2 separate regions of the Homo sapiens genome follow, and region 2 is linked to region 1. Evidence: fine-mapped expression QTL. Tissue or cell type: lymphoblastoid cells. Region 1 holds a variant in brackets; the other region holds the start of a gene. All regions are shown on one strand. Distances are from middle to middle.

The links. PIP is the estimated chance that this variant, and not a neighbour inherited with it, causes the effect.
Region 2: it holds the start of FSTL4, and the variant in region 1 is fine-mapped to the expression of FSTL4 in lymphoblastoid cells (GEUVADIS, PIP 0.95).

The regions. Positions count from the first base shown.
Region 1 is chr5:133,821,598-133,829,700 of GRCh38, reverse strand. It overlaps a transcript of FSTL4 not described here. Among named protein-coding and RNA genes, the nearest start is that of WSPAR, 88 kb to the left of the region's middle. RefSeq lists an enhancer at 4,832-4,881. The variant G/A (reference allele first, on the strand shown) is at 4,770.
Region 2 is chr5:133,608,690-133,616,789 of GRCh38, reverse strand. It overlaps FSTL4 (follistatin like 4), which reads left to right and starts at 4,249. Exons shown (of 16, transcript NM_015082.2): 1 at 4,249-4,465. RefSeq lists a silencer at 5,518-5,567.

The sequences.
Region 1 (8,103 bases):
GGGCTGGGACATTTGGGAGCCAGCAGTTCTGGTTCTTTTCTACCACTCTCAGAGCAGCAGGGGCAGCAAAACCATGAACCCTTTCTCTCCCCCTGACAACACAAGGAAAGCACCTGTCAGCCTGAGTGTTGGCAACTGTGTCTAATTCTTCTCCCTACTCACTTTGGTGGACACAGTAAGTGCTCAATATAGAGCAGGTGCTGAATAAATGAATGGGAGAGCAGGGCACAGGGAAGGAAGAGCTGTTTGGTTTGGGTTTTGGTTCCACAAACAACCATGAAATGTTTGAGCTTTTTCTTTCTTTTCTTTTTTTTTGAGACAGAGTCTCACTCTGTTGCCGAGGCTGGAGTGCAGTGGCGCGATCTCAGCTCACTGCAACCTCTGCCTCCCGGTTCAAGCGATGCAAGTCCTGAGTAGCTGGGACTACAGGCACATGCTACCACACCCGGCTAATTTTATTTTTTTGTATTTTTAGTAGAAACAGGGTTTCGCTGTTTTGGCCAGGCTGGACTTGAACTCCTGACCTCAGGTGATCCTCCCACCTTGGCCTCCCAAAGTGCTGGGATTACAGGCGTGAGGCACCATGCCAAGCTGTTTGAGCCTTTTCTTGGAGGAACATGAGCAATCCCTCTGAGGATTACCTGAAGAAATGGTGCCTTTCGGAGGTCCCAGATGAGAAGCACGTGGCCCCGGGAGGCTCTGCCGTGTGTTTCCATGCTCCCCTCTGCTGGTGAGGCTGCCTGCCCGCTGTTATGTGGCTCCTCTTAGCCCCACTCAGATCCTATTATGCCAACGCAAATTGAGTTACAGCATCAAAAGCTCTTTGTTTAGTGAAGCAAGCACTTCGTATTGGTTACTACATCTGTCTTGTTATTTTGCATCATCTTTGCTAGAAGCCTGCATGCATGTCCTTGAGGAGCAAGCTGTAAAGACTAAGTGATTTATGAAATCTATTTTGTACTTTTGGTTATTCTTAAATGGGATAAATAGTGGTGTTGGGGCTCCAGCGTTTGCAGAGGAGAGAACCAGCAGTCCGGTGTCCCCCTTGGGCCTGGAGGATCACGGTGCCCATAGTGCCTGATGCAGAATTGGCTGAGGGTGTGACTGGGTTTTCTCTAGAATTTAATTAGGCACAGTCTGTTACAAAAAGTTGACAAATAGGGCACTCGTTCCTACAGAACGGATGTAGCGATCTGAGATTAAGAGTGCCAATTCTTTGCATTTGTACAGTTTTTAAAAAATAGCACTTTTTCACATTATAAAAGTAATATGGTGTATATTGTAGAAAATTTGGAAAATAGAGACAAAGCACAGTGAAAAATCCTGTCACTGAGGGTGAAGCATTGTGAACACTTTAGTGCGCAAACTTTAGGATCCACTAGGCACATGTGTGTATGTATACCTATACATATGTACTTAGAATTTTTATAAGAAAGGTGTCAAGAGCGCACTTGCTCTTTCCCTTCCCAGCCCTGGTGTCTTTGGTTCCCCAGGAAGCCACCAGACCCACCAGCTCACACGAAGCCTTCCTTGTTCCTGGCCCTTGTCCTCCCCTAGGGAATCTTCCCCAGCTTAACACACAGCAGAGGAGGGTGACTGAACACTGACCATATGTCCCCAACCCAATGGTCTGTGTCCACCGGGGTGGAGTTTCCATGTTGCCGCCAGGGACAGGAGTTGGGGTGGCCAACCCTCTGGCTTCCCTCGATGGCTTTGTGACCCAGGAGATACCAAGTGTTCAGCATTTCTTGGCAGCTCTCTCCTGCCCAGGGGGCTGGGATAGCTACTGACGCACAGGGTGTGGCTGACCTCTCAAGTTTTGAGGCAAATCTTGATCCTTATAGCCTGCAAGACCCCCAGTTGTGCCCATGCCTCATGCTCTGTCCTTTGTCAACCCTGGGTTGTTGAACATGACCCTCTTCTGCTTGAGGATGGCTCCAGAGAGGTGTGTGACCAGCCTTGTGTGCAATGTACAGAATTTGGGGTGAGATAGTGTGGAAGAAACCCATGGCTTTGTAGGTCTTTTCAGCCTGTGGAGGAAAATCATACAAGAGGAGTCCACAGACTTGGATGTCTTCTCTCTGGTCTTAAGAAAAACTCTTCTTTTGGTCACTGAAAAGTGATGTTTAAAGGATCTCCATGTTGGTGCTGATATATAAGAGAGTATTTGCACAGTGTCCACTCTCCATTTTCCTAGAGAAATCAATCCTCCTCGTCAGAAACTTGTGGTCCCAAGACTATCTGCATCCATATCAGCTGAGCTCAGGGGCAGTGTTGGGAGGCAGGCATCCGCGACACTCCTTAGTCAATATTCTCTGCCCTCCCAGCTCACCCTGACTTTGTTCAGTTGATCGCCCCGCTGCTGTCAGGAAGGCCTGTCCTTGAACATGGTTGAACGATTCATTACCTGTCAGAGGCAGCCAGGTGTGTCTGTGCTGGGGGCTCACTTAGTTGGCTTAGTAATTAAAAGCAAACAAAGCCTGGATGGAGACCTATTGGTGCTGCTGGGGGCGCTGAGGCAGAAACAAGCAGGCAGGCAGCCAGGTCCCAGAGCCGAGGATGATGCGGTATCATAAGAGGTGACAGAGTGCTGCTTCCCTGGAGTGGGGAAAGCAAATGGCTCCTCTGCAGGCCGTCTTTACGGACCCACAAAGTTCCTGCTCCCATCTGGGCCTGGGGCGGGACTGTCACTGGGCGTGCCATTGGGCCTTCTGTGGTGAGAGGGGAGGAGGGCAAGGCCTGTTCTCAGATCCCTGCCCTGCTGGGCCCTGTTATTGGAATCACACTGGGTGCTGGTGACATCCTAAGAAAAGACAGAATTTTAGTTATTAAGTCAGTGGCAGTGGTGGGATTCAAACCCAGTGCTTCCTGACTCTAAAAGCCAGACTCTTGTTTTATTCCCTTAGGTTGGGGTATAGACTAGGTTGAATAGGTGGTCCCCCAAAAGATGTATCTACGTCCCTGAGCCCAGTGTGTGTGACTTTATTTGGAAAAACAGTTTTGCAGGTGAAATTAAATTAAGGATCTTGAGATGGGGTGATACTCCTGGATTACCTAGGTGGGCCCTGCATCCAAGTGTCCTTGTAGGAGAAAGGCCAACGGGGGATTTGAGACACAGAGAAGACACACGAAGAGGAGGCAGTGTGGCCACAGAGGCAGAGGTTGGAGTGATGCGGCCACAAGTCAAGGAATGCTGATGGCCACCAGAAGCTGAAAGAGGCAAAGGCAGCTTCTCCCTTAGGGTCCCTGGAGGGAGTCTGGTGTGGCAGGATTCTGGGCTTCTGGGCTTCAGAACTGTGGGAGAATCATTTCTGTCGTTATAAGCCACCCAGTTTGTGGTCCTTTGTTATGGCAGCCACAGGAAACTAACATGGGTGGCTCAGCACAAGTCAAAGGCTGGGATTTTCAGTCCCTTTGCAATCACTGTGGCATCTTTTTAGATATCAGAGGCAGTCCTGTCAGGCTGAGCATGGAGCCATGTGGCGCCATCTGAATCCATCTCTCCAGGCCTCTGGTGACATCGCAAGCTGCCCTAGTCTCAGTGTCCCTCTCATGTAGCCTGGAGTCCCCAGCCATGGAGCGCAGTGGAAGCTGACCTGATGCTGCATGTACTTTTGTGAATTGATTTTGCTCAGCTCAGAAGTTGCCTGCTTCTCACCTGGAGGCAGTGGCAGGAAGTTGGTGGTGTTTGGGGCCTTTTGCCCTGAAGTGGCACACCCCTTCTGCAGCCTCACCGGCAGGCGACCTCAAGGAAGGTTATAAATAGCAGCCGGGGATGGGTTCTGAGTGCCTTGAGGTGGAAACACAATACTTGATGACAGCTGAGCACAGGGGGAGACAGCTCGATGCTGGGGGCCATTGCTTCTCCGCAGCTCTGACGGTAATCAGAGCAGGCAGATGTCACCGACAGCTGGAGCTAATGGGCTGTCAGACAGGGCCGGACCAACCTGGGACATCCTCCGTGCTCCCTGGCACAAGTCCAGTCCAGACCGAGGGCACTCAAGCATGGGACGCCAGGGGAACGGCTTTGATGCCTACTGGTGAGGGCCATGCCCCTCCCTGCCTGGTGAAGCCTTGTTAGGAGTTGGTGGCTCTCCTGCACCCACCCCCGCGGATAGTTTTATTTTTCATCAGTGGGAAATGGTCATTTGAATTACTGATGAGAGATTAAAACTAAGCTAATTCAGTTCAATTTCTTCAATAGACAAAACTATTGATAATTAACCTAGAAGCAAAGGTCAATGCAGTGGTAAATGGCTGCAGAGGCAGAGGAATTGCAATGAGGAGCTATTAGTTTGTGCTAAGGTGGAAATTATACAAGAACCATCTTGAGAAACACTTTGAAATGAGTTCAAGATTCCAGACCAAAGTTTGGTGCCCACCTGAAAGACCTGCATCTCAGCCTGGGGACTTTTGAGCATAGGATTGGCAGGGCTTGTTTCTTGACTATGAAGTCCTGAAAAAGGAGTGAGCTGTGGTTTCTGGGGGGTGTGTCCTTCAAGGTGGCGTGGGAGTAGGGAGACCTGAGGCCTGGTTTTAACTGGTTTTGACTCCTGAGTCTCTGTGTGAGTGCAGCGAGGCACTGAGTCCCTGAGTGACCTCAGTGTCTCTGTGAAGTGAGGAGGTGGAGCCAGGCCACTGAGCCTCTTCATCTCTGCCACCACGGACTCTTGCCCTGTGGTTGTAATGAATGATTCCAGGGACACCAGGAAAAGGTGGGCAGGAAGCTGTGGTGCCCTCTCTATTTTTACACACAGCCACCCTCTGAA[G/A]GGGATTCACGCTGTGATTTATTAACTTGTCTGTCTGTGGAGTTGGGTGTCTTGGTGGGAGTCCTGGACTCAGGTACCATTTAGCAACCTTGAGAGTTCAAAGGGCTCAGCCATTGGACATGGTATGTGGTGGTTTCCCGGTGCATGCCTGGCTCCACCTCTCCCCTGCTCAAGGATGCCTGCGTGCTTTGGGCAGGAAAAGCCAAACTTGGTTGCTTTGGCAACAGGGGTCTTGGTGAGAAGCTGGTACACAAGCAGGTGCTTCCAGTGTGCCAGAGAAAGGCACAGGGCCTTCTTCGCCCCGAGTCTTCTTACTTCTCTGATGGAGCTGAGTCATGCATCACCTCTTGTTTAATGGTGGTGAAATATACTCAGGTACTCTGATACTGTGAAATATACATTTGGTCTTCATCTCCCTTTCCTGGCAAGAGATCCTGAAGCCCTGGAATCTCTAGAGGGATATGAGTGTCTTTTGTCTGCTTCTGAGATGGCTGGTGGCCCCTAAATAGCCTCAGGATGGGGGCACATGCCTTGTTCTGTGGATCTCTTTCACCTGGATTAAACTGGTAAATGTAAGTAAAGCGTTTCCCTGAGTTCTGTGAGCTGCTATAGCAGATTAATCGAACCCAAGGAGGGGGCTGTGGGAACCCTCATTTATAGTGGGTCCATCAGAAGCATAGGTGGCAACCCACTATTTATGATTGGCATCTGGAGTGGGAGCAGTCCTGTGGGATCTGATGCTCTCTCCAGGTAGACAGTGTCAGAACTGAATTGAAGAAGAGGACACCCAGCTGGTGTCTGCTAGAGAATCACCTACAGAATTGCGTGGTGTGTGAGAAAACCCTCCCATGCATCTGGTGTCAGAAGTATTGTCTTGAGTGCCTGGGTGGTGTGGGGGTAGAGGGAAAAACACTTTGGTCTTTGTCCCGTCTCTTCAAAGGTATTTGTCTCAGAACACTAGAAGTGGCTTTCAAACATCTATCTAGCAGCAACATTCTTTAAAAAATTAAACCTTAGAAGGAAACTCAATATGTAAGACAAAGAAAAGGGGAGCTGTTCTGCAGCGGGGAGTTGCAGCCCTCCCATCTGGCCCTTTCTCCCCAGGGGCAGGCTGGCTTTGGAGGGGGCATGAGGACTTCCCCATGCCCCAGTTCCAGGGTATGCTGACCTTGGTCAGAAAGCCACCCAATCAGCCTCCTCATTTTACAACAGAGGGACTTGAGACAAGAGAGGGGAGTGGACTGGTCCATGTGTCCCAGCAGGCTCCTGGCCAAGCAGGACTCCCCTGGTTTCCAGCTTGGTGGAGGAGTGGGGAAGGAGACAGGGGCACTCTGTCCGGGACACCATACTGCCTCTCTGGGAGCTATTCTCAGACCTGCTGGGTGTTTGAGTCTCTGACATCCTGAGGATCTGGCTTCCAGTGAGATCTCCCCTCTGTGTGACAAGTCCCCTAAGACTGACTTTCAGACTAAGGCCTCATCACTCCCTCTGTCCAAGGGGGCCCAAACCAGCCCCTGGAGAGGAGGAGAGTGCAGGGCTGGGGAGAGATTCTGGGTACAGGGGCATGATTTGGGGCTGTGCTGAAGTCCTTTCCTGTGGAATGTAATTGTTGCTCAGGGGACCAGCAGGGCTGCTGTGGGACACCCTCTTCTGATGTTTTAATTTCAACTTATTTCCTGGGGTGCTGAAGCTACTTTTGAGAGGAGCTGATTGGGACCTATGAATGGCCCAGGAGCACCTGGTGGTGACCAGCTCTGGGCTCTGCTTTCTTTTCCTGTTTTGTTCTTGCCCATCCAGAAGTTCTTGACTTCTTGCCTTGAAGGTTTGTCTCCTGAACGCTATGGCACTTGATCACCTTCTAATGTACCATATGCTTTACCTGTTTACTTTGTCTATTGTTCATGGTCTGTTTCCATGCCCATGCCCCCAACCCCACCTCCTGCCCCCACATGAAAGCTACTCCAGGGCAGAGAGACTGTCTGATTTGTTCACTGCTGTAGTTTAGGTAAGATCTCTATGGATATTGTTAAAAGGACACATGAATAAATGAATCACATTTCCTTCCCACATATCTTCAGACTTCTGGCAGAATTACCTCTGGGAGGTAATTCTCTACTCTTTGTTTTTTGGTTTTGGGCTTCCTTTTGCATGGCGTTAGAGTTCGTGGGTCCGAAAAAGGATGTTTAATATCTGCTGAAGGACTAAAAACTATTTATTAAAGATGGGATTCATATTCTTGTTGAAATGTTGCCTTTCCAGGAGCATCGGTGCGTGTGCCTTTCCATGACGCCCCCGGAATGTTCACATCCTTAGCTTTCTGGCTTCACCAGGGACCCTCCCTGATTTCCCACGGCTCCACCCTCACCTTCCTTAGATTTCTGCAGTTTTAAAGTCTACTCTCCCATCTCAGTAATGAAGAAATAAACAATGGTTCTGTGTGTGACCCCTGATTTTAATTGGATTTCAGAGCAATTTTGAATGAATGAATGAAGTTTCTGGGCTCTGAGAATATGCTCTTCAAATAATGAGCTGAAACGATTACATTAATTTCCTAAGGATCTATTCCTTCCTCTGCTCAGATTATTTGCAGACACTGGTCAATGCTGCATATAAATTGAGGTCTCAAAAGGCTAACTTAACAATTAATCGGAAGCATCTCCAAGCCCCTAAAAATTGAAATAGCTCCACAAATGGAAGAGGAAATCTACCTTCAGAGACCTCTTGTTATTAAAGATGTGCACTTTGGATACATCAAGGGATTCTGGGGTGAACTCTGTTTATCAGGGTCCAGGGGGCGAGGAGTGTTCATACATCAAAGACATAATTCTAAGCATTTTGTCATATCAGCTTTTCTCTTTGTTCTTGCAATGCAGAGTCTTGGAGGCAAGTCATCTTTGTCACTCAAGAAGTGCAGGAGGTTTGATTGAGAAATATGCCTGAGTGTGACCCCCCAGGGTCACTTGTCTTCATTCTTCCCTTCTCACTGTGCCCCCGTTGGGCTCCCATAAGACCCTTGGCATCTGATCCTCCTGCCTTTTGTGTTCCTCCTCCTTGCACCGCTACGTTCCTGGCAACTGAATTTCCGACCAGTCTCCTTTTCTCTGGTATCTCACTCCTTGTCCTTTCTGAGCATGTTGCCTGGGGTCATAATTATCCTGCTCAAGAATCCTTAGTGACTCCCTAATAAACCCATGGGATGAAGTAGGAGCTCCTCCCTGCTGGCTTCTGGGCCCTGTTGGATCCAGTCCTGCGCCTCCTCCACAGTGCCCTCTTCCCTGTCCCCACATGTGCTCAACTCTCCACTTGAGCTGGAGTCTTCATAGCACCTCTCACC
Region 2 (8,100 bases), 210 kb after region 1:
ATAGTTGTCTTCATAGCCCTTGAGGTGACCCATCATAATACTGCATATTCATTTGAAAGGAACGTTTATTTAGAAGAATGGAAGCTTCAGCCAGCCAGGTAGCTCATGCCTGTAATCCCAGCTCTTTGGGAGGCCGAGGTGGGGCAAATTACTTGAGCCCAGGAGTTCAAGACCAGCCTGGGCAACATAGGGAGACCCCGTCTCTACAAAAAGTACAAAAATTACCTGGGTATGGTAGTGCATGCCTGTAGTCCCAGCTATTGGGAGGCTAAGGTGGGAGGATCACCTGAGCCCAGGGAGGTTGAGGCTACAGTGAGCTGTGATCCCACCACTGGACTCCAGCCTGGGTGACAGAGTAAGACCCTGTCTCAAAAAGAAAAGAAGAGGAAAAGAAAGAATGGAAGCTCCCTAAGGTAGCAGTTCACCTTTAAAATTAGATAGATAGATAGATAGATAGATAGATAGATAGATAGATAGATTTAGATTTTCACATTATTTATGATTCTATACTGGTGAGTTGGAAAACAGGGTCATGATAAAAATTATGTTGTCCCTTTCAAAGAAAGGAAATTGGCCCCTCTTTTCACTCTCCTCTTAATATGTTCCCTCTTTCATCCCTTTTGCCTATACTCAGTAGGGTATGATAGTTTGTGGCTGTAGGCCTGGCCATCTCATCCCCAATTATCCCTTGTAAACAATACATTCTTAAGAGTAGCAGACTTCAGTTTCCTCCTGTTATCAGCACCTTTCTTGGTCCCCTTGTGCCATCAATCCAGCCCCTGTGAGTTTGCTGGGAATTTGCCTTGGTAACAATGCCATGGTGAGGGTTTTATGTTCATCTCCCTCCATTTTTACCATTCACAATTCCCTTTCCATCACTGCATCTTCTCATTTATCCCAACTTCTTCATTAAAATTCCTACTCTATACCACTTCTTCTTTGTCTCGAAAAATTTCCCCAATCACAGTTGTCCCTTGAATGAATACCTTATCTCCATGCTAGCTACTTTTCTCCCTGAAATAAAGTTAAAAACAATTATGTATGTGTAATCTTAAGTCTAGGATCTTGAACTTACTGCCTACATTCCCTTAATTTCTAGGTGATTAATGAATTATCATCTTAAAAATAAGCATTAATATTAGACTTAGAGGAAAACTTCAACATCATAGCTCTGTTTAGATCAGAATAACTGAACTTCTATAAATACAGGCAAAATAAAGGCATAGACCTTTAGAACTGAAAATGGCCTTAGACATGTCGTTTAGTATGACTGCCTCCCATGTACCCATTCCCAATTCCCACTTAAGAGAAAACAAGTTCTGGGAAAGGTGTGACTCTCCCAGGCTCACTGAGCCCTAGAGGCTGAGGCGGGAGAGAGACCCCATCCTTGTGCCTCCCATCCAGGGCTCTCCTAAGCACAGGGCTGGCTCTTCAGTAAACTGCATGGTTTGGTTTGAAGATTTACAAAAACATTTTTTGAACAGGCAGCAGAACGTTAAATTATGCAAGACAAGGAAGACTCTTTCCTGCCTTTTCCCACCTTCTCACATGACTTCCCAGTCTGGCTTCTAATGGGTATTTCTAGGCACTGTTTGACCAGCCTAGTGGGGACTCCCAAGGGTAAGCTGACCCACAGTTAGTGATGCAGATACTTTTGGTTGGATCTGGAGAAAGTGCCTTGCTTCCTCCTGATTCCCATGGCTATGTGTCATCTCTGAGTATCCTGATATGCAGGTGTAATCTGAAATGTCCTAAGAGACACACATCATTTGGCAGTAGTTTTTCATTATATTGTTGTGTTTTTGGTAAGGATTAGAAATAGAAAAAAGATTTTAAACCAGCAACGTAAAAAAATATTTGGGTTGCTTAAACTTTTTGATCTTGTAAAAGTATATTAATAATGTTTTTATGTGTGTCTCTGGCTGAACCACTCACCAAAAACAGAGTGGGGCTGGGGGGCAGTAACTGGAATTTATGTTTCCTTTTAGCTCCCCTATTCCAAGCTTATTGAATTACATGAAGTTCAAAACTTAACCATTATTTCCCCTAAGAATCCTAGTTGGCTATTGAGAATCAGTATGCTTGCAAGTTCTGAAACAGGGTTTCAGGCAAATTTTGAAATTCTCAGTGTGAAATCTAGCCTATTTTCCAATTTGGGGTGTACTATTAAACAAAAAATTACACTGAGAGGTAAAAGCACAGAGCAATTCAAAGAGGTGTCAAGGTTACTGGCATCTGATGCTGCTTCCCTGGAGCCTTGTTTTATTTTGTCATTCACACTTCACCTTTCTCATTCCGAGGTGACTTTTAATTTCACTCTTATTTTATGCACAGTAGTTAAACAGCTCACTTCAGATGTTAGCATTCTCTCTAAGGAATATTCCATACATCTGGTTTGCAGCAACTACCTTCTTCTCCTTCTTTGGGAAGCGTGTAGAAGTTCAGTGCCTGTTCACTGCATTAAACAGAGCTATTTCTGATCTTGGTCAACCTATAGACCCTGATTTACATATGACCTTGAGTTACTAAAAAACAAAAAATACACAAAGTCCTGCTTTGATTATGTAATAAGGCCACTAGGTTGACTCAGGGACTTTGTGATCAGAGCTGAGAATAGAAATCTGCTTTTCCAAATACCTCATGTCTTAGAGGAGAGCCGAATCCAGCCTCTAAGCCATGGTGTACGTTCCTGACCACAGACTTAGAATTACATTTCAGAGGGAGGCACAGCACATTTCCAAACTTCCCTGCTTCCTTTTATACTCATTTTCTCTTTTCTGTTTCCCAAGATGAAAAGTGCCATCCCTTCCCCAGTCCTGCCATGGAGAATCTGGCCCCTAGCCAGCCCCAGAAGTTCAGTCATGGTGGCCTTGGCAAAGATTCATAGTCAAATCTGAGAGAGGATCACACTGGCTAGGGCCCAGGGTCACTGAGGATGTAGTAGCCTTTATCCTTCTGAGTAAAAATCATGGTATCCACATGGGAAGTCAACCAGGTTTTGTCCAACCCCTCATTTTACAAGTGGGGAAACTGATACCTACAGTAGAGATACGATTGGCTCTGCATTACATAGCTTGGCAGTGATAGAGGGAGAGCTGGACCCCAGACCAAAACTGTGTGATGCCAAGACCGCGCTGGCCCATTCACTGCTGTATCTCTAGCAACTATTAATAGCACAGTGCCTGCTGCATTGGAGGGGTTCAGCGGCAGGAAAATCTGTGGAAGGAAAAAACAAACGTAATATCTCTTTCTTCAGGTCAGCCTTCCATTATTCTTCCCCTTTTCCTTATATTTAACTAACTTCATCCTCAGAAAAATCCCCTCTGTCACCTCCCCCCGGCCAGGAGAGATTACAGAGGCATGGACAGAACACTGTTCACCTAAGCCAGGAAGGCCCCTGGTGCCCACGCAGCCAGAGCAGGAGGCAGGCCCTCAGAAAGTCTCCTGGCCATCAGCCTGGCCTGGGTAGGGGCTCCCTCCTAAGTTTCCTGCCAGACTGAGGCTACGTATGACCATTTATGGGCCCCTAGTTGTTACAAAGGTGTTTCCAGTTCATTCGGGAAGGAAGACTGATCTCAAAAGCTGCTGATGTTAAAGAGGGATTCAGAAAAGTTTGGGAGCCCCAGGCTTGGGGATGGGATCAGGATGGGGAAATATCCTGTTCTAAGGGAGAAGGGACCCTCTGGGCCCAGCTAGGTCAGGTAGGCAAATGTCACTTGGGATTGCCCCTGTATGCCCTGAATGTCTTAAGATTCTGTAGTTGGAAGAGGGAAGATTCAGAAAAGAGAAAACCTTTGCTGTTTCCCAGGTTGTTGGGTCTCAACGGCGGGGGATTTCACCCACTTTGTCCCCAGGGACAGCTCTCCTGCTGTGGTGTACCGGCCCGCCTGGACTCCACGAGCAATGGCCGCGGATTCAGAGACCCCCTGTGCGCCTGGAGAGCACAGCTTTGGGGAACCTGGCCCGGAAAGGAGCCTGGAGGAGAGCAGAGGTGAAGAGGGGCTGTCACTTGCCGAGCTCCACGCTAGCCAGAGGCAGGAGCGCTACGCTGGCCCTCCTCCCTCCGGGCCCTAGATGGCCCCAGCGCTCCGGAGTCATCGCGCCCCGCGTGCGCGCCCGCCTGCTCCGCGCACCTGCCGTGGCCGCCGCGCGGGTCTGACCGGCTGGCGGGCGGGCGGCGCGCACAGGTGGCGGCGATTGGGCAGGCGGGGCCCAGAGGGTGACGTCACGGGCTCCGGTCCCGGCGGCAGAAATAGGGCAGCCGCGGCGGCGGTGGCACAGCAGCGGGCAGCGGCGGCTCAGGGAGCTGGAGCCTCAACAGCCTCCAGCGAGCCCGGGACCCGCCGACAGCCCGAGAAACCAGCCGAAGGACGCGGGGCGGGGTCGCCGCCGCCGCCACGGGGTGCTCCCTCCCTCCCGCCCAAGTCCGGCCACCTGGTCTTCCCCTCGGCCCCGGCCGTCTCAGGTACGCGGGCGCAGCTCCCAGCGGGCGCGGGGAGGGTGCCATGTCGCTGGCGCCGCCACCAGCCGGTCCCGCTGCACCCCACTGGGGTCCTGGCGCCCGCGGCCCCGCATCTTGCTGCAGGGCCCGGCGCGGGCGCTTGCTTGTCCTTACTGCCCGCGCCGGGAAAGCCAAGTTTGCCCGCGGGGAAGGGACCGCTGGGCCAGGGCTCGGCAGGGCTACCCCGGCCAAGGCCAGGACTCGAGGAGAGGCTGGGACGCCGAGGCTCGTGGCCGGGGTCTACGGTGGGGACCGGAGTGACCCGGTTGGCACGCGGGGCGCCACGCAGAAGCGCTCGGGCCGAGCCCGCAGCTCGCGCCCGGCTCCGAAATCCTGCAGGCGCCGTTCTTGGGTTCAGGACCCCGAGCGGCCCCGGCGGAGCCAGGCGAGCGCGGCCCCTCGGCCCGGGCCCGGTGCCCTTGGCTCCGGGTTGGGGCGCCGGGCAGGCATTCTCAGCACCTCCTCCCCGCGGCTTTGCGGGGAAACTTGCGTCTCCTCGCTGCAGCCCAAAGGGCCCGCTGCGCTTCGCCTGGCCCTGGCTTCCCCGGGGTCCGCCGCATGTGAGGCTGGGGAGGAAGGAATCAGGGCACGACCCGACTCCAGGCAGCCTGCGGCGCTGCTTGTGCGTAGCCGGCCGCGGTCCAGAGTGAGCGGCCCGGGGTACCCGCTTGAACGTGTCTAGGGAGCAGTGTGTTGGGGGCGTTCAGCGTTCGGGCTGGGGGCTTGGTCCTAAGAGAGCTTGCACTGTGGATGATCTCCGCCCTCTTTGCGCCCGCAAAACAAAGACGAGTTCTGAGTTTCAGGAGGGACCTGGACGAGGCAGGCACAGCACTCTGCTTTCGGCGCCTGTCGCCTCGAGTTTGGGGACGAGCTGACGCTAGTCTTTGGGGCTCCCTGCAGCCGACAAAGCGGCGCCAACCCCAGGCCTGCCACCTGAGGACTTTGTGCCCGCAACTCTTGCGGGAGCGGAAAGCCGCCGAGGCAGTGGGGTTTCTTGTTTTCCAGAGCGCGGCGAGCCTCCGCGCGGCGCGGCAAGTGCACTAGGAGTGCGCGGGTCAGCGGGGCGGGCCCGGCGAGGTCGGTGTCGCGGCTCGAGAGCGGGTGCCGGGGCGCTGTCCAGCAGCCCTCGCTCGCGGCCGCGGGCCGCCGACACTGATGAATGGCGCGGCCACAGCCCGCCGCTCCCCTCTAGGTGTCGCTTCCGCCGAGCTTTCCTCCAGTGAAAAACAGCGCCGGCAGCTTGGTCTGTTACCTTCGTAAATTTGTTGCAAGCCTGTGCACCAGGAATTGTACTAGATGGGGCCCCCGAGATACAAACATCCGTCCAGGTTCTCTGGGCCAAACGTAAACAGAATTTCAATAGGTGGTGAAGTAACTGCCAGCCAAAATGTTCACCGGGAATGGGCCTGTGTCACAATCTGTGAGGGGAAAAGACGGATCAGTGAGCGACTAGGACTCTTCTTGAAAGTCCTAAGTTATTTTCCTACTGCCAAATTTAGGGGAAACCAGCGATGCTTTTTAATAGTGTCTTCTTAATCCTGGGAGCCAGGCGCCAGTTTCTGTGCCTGCCCCTCTGGCCCCCAGGACAGACTCTGGGTCTGGTTGGCGGGGGGTCCACCTGGGAAGGGAATGGTCGGAGGTGTGAGTGATGCAGCTTCTGAGACTCCAGAGCCACAGCAACTCTCAGGCAGGAGCTCAAGCCGGACATACGAGCAGATGCCCTACAGGGCACGTGTCTGCTTCCCATCTTAGCGTTGTGAGAAGGAGGCACTGCAGCATCACTAGACCATTTCTGCCATACTCTGCTAAATGTTCGCTTTTTCCCTCCCATCCTAGGAAAAAAAGGCACCACCCTCTCCAAAGACTTCAGACTGAGCCAAAGTTCACATAAGAAAATAGTCCACTTTGATGTAATGTATTTAAATTGCTCGTTAGAGTTGTCCTAGTGCTTTTTTCTCTCTTAGACTTTTATGATCATCCTCAATTTTTGTTGATTCTAGGAAAGCTCTTTTTCTTCTGGAAAAGGCCAGCTTGTTTTTCTGGGTATTAGGAGAACTTTTATCCTTTCGGCTGTGCCCTGGAGGTGGGTGAGGGAAGAGGAGGTTGGATTTTTCCACCATGACCAGTCAGTCACTGAGGACTTTTTTTCCTTTTACTAAGGGCCGTAGGACTTTTTAAATGTGACCTTCACGTTATGATCTTTTGTTTGACTTAACACTATATTCAGAGACTAGCATTGAATAGTCATTGTTTCATAAAACTACCTTAACTCCTACCTTGCCTTGTTTGAGTGTTTCTCTGCAAACTCAACCTTCTTGAGTTGCTTATGTGCGGTTAGTTGTGTGCTTCCTAGCTTAATGCAATTAGATATTTCAAGAGCACATCTTTCTTTACATTTTCTGTCTCAATGCATAACATAAGGCATGGAATTTCCAATAAAATAGAACTGCAATCAAGAGCATGTGGTTCTTAAGAGGTATGAGCTGAAGGTTGTAAGGATAAAGGTTATTGGAAGTCACATGTGTGTCTGTGTTAAACGTCAGAGTAAATAGGAATAGAGATTTATACATGGCACATAGAATAATGTAGCCATCTAATTTATCAAGTGTTGGGGAAGAATTAACTAATGATATAGAGTAGATAATTAATAGGAAATGCAATTTAACTTCATTAGGGCTTGCTGCAACGTTAGCTTGCTATATCTCCATGCCTAATTTCCCTGGGTTGGTGTTTTAGGGACTGTCTTAGGAAATCTGTACCACTTTCTTTTTTTCTAAAACACTCACATATCAAAACTAGGGTCGTAAGCCTTTGAGAGGTTCCCGTACAGCCTCCTGGTTTCACGCTGGGGTTGATGTGGCTTTTTTTCCCCCTTTAAATTTGAGCAGACATGCAGAAGAGAATTCCACGTTGTATTCAGTCAGTATTTGGAATTCCAGAATCCCAGTTGATTTTTATATGTTGATTGCCAACATGCCATGTATGAAATGCTACACACCTACAGTGTGTGTAGGGCAGACACTTTTTCATTTGGAAAGGTTGAGAATGCAGATGCTTCAGGGTCACAAATCTGACTGTTCTCTTCAAGGCTGGGTGGCATTGCTTGGTTCTGCCAAATCATCTTTGTAATTTCTGGTCCTGTTGATTACAAAAAGAAGCCATTTCTGTATGGCTAATCCTTAATGGCTAGTCTGGTAAAGTTACCAAGTTCTGGGAGAGAGGCTGAGAGAGAGAATGGATGAACAATGCCACCGAAACTCTGAGGGCCAGAATTCCCATTCTTCCCAACAGGGCTGTTTCCTGGAATAGAAAGAGAAGTTTGTATTAAACCCATTGCCAGTTTAATGGGATTGCTTCTCTCTGGCCTATGAACTTGGTCAATAAAGACAGCTTACATGCCTGTGTGCGTTCTCTGGGTGGGGCAGATTTTGGTATTTTCATATGAATACCTATTTCTCCCTAACAATTTGCATTCCTATTTCATGCTTTTTCAGCTTTCTTCAAAAAGCAAGTCAGTATTTGGAATGTTACATCATACTAACCTGTAATACCTCTGTAATTCTAAATACAGATAAATAATAGCACAGATATTAGCTTAT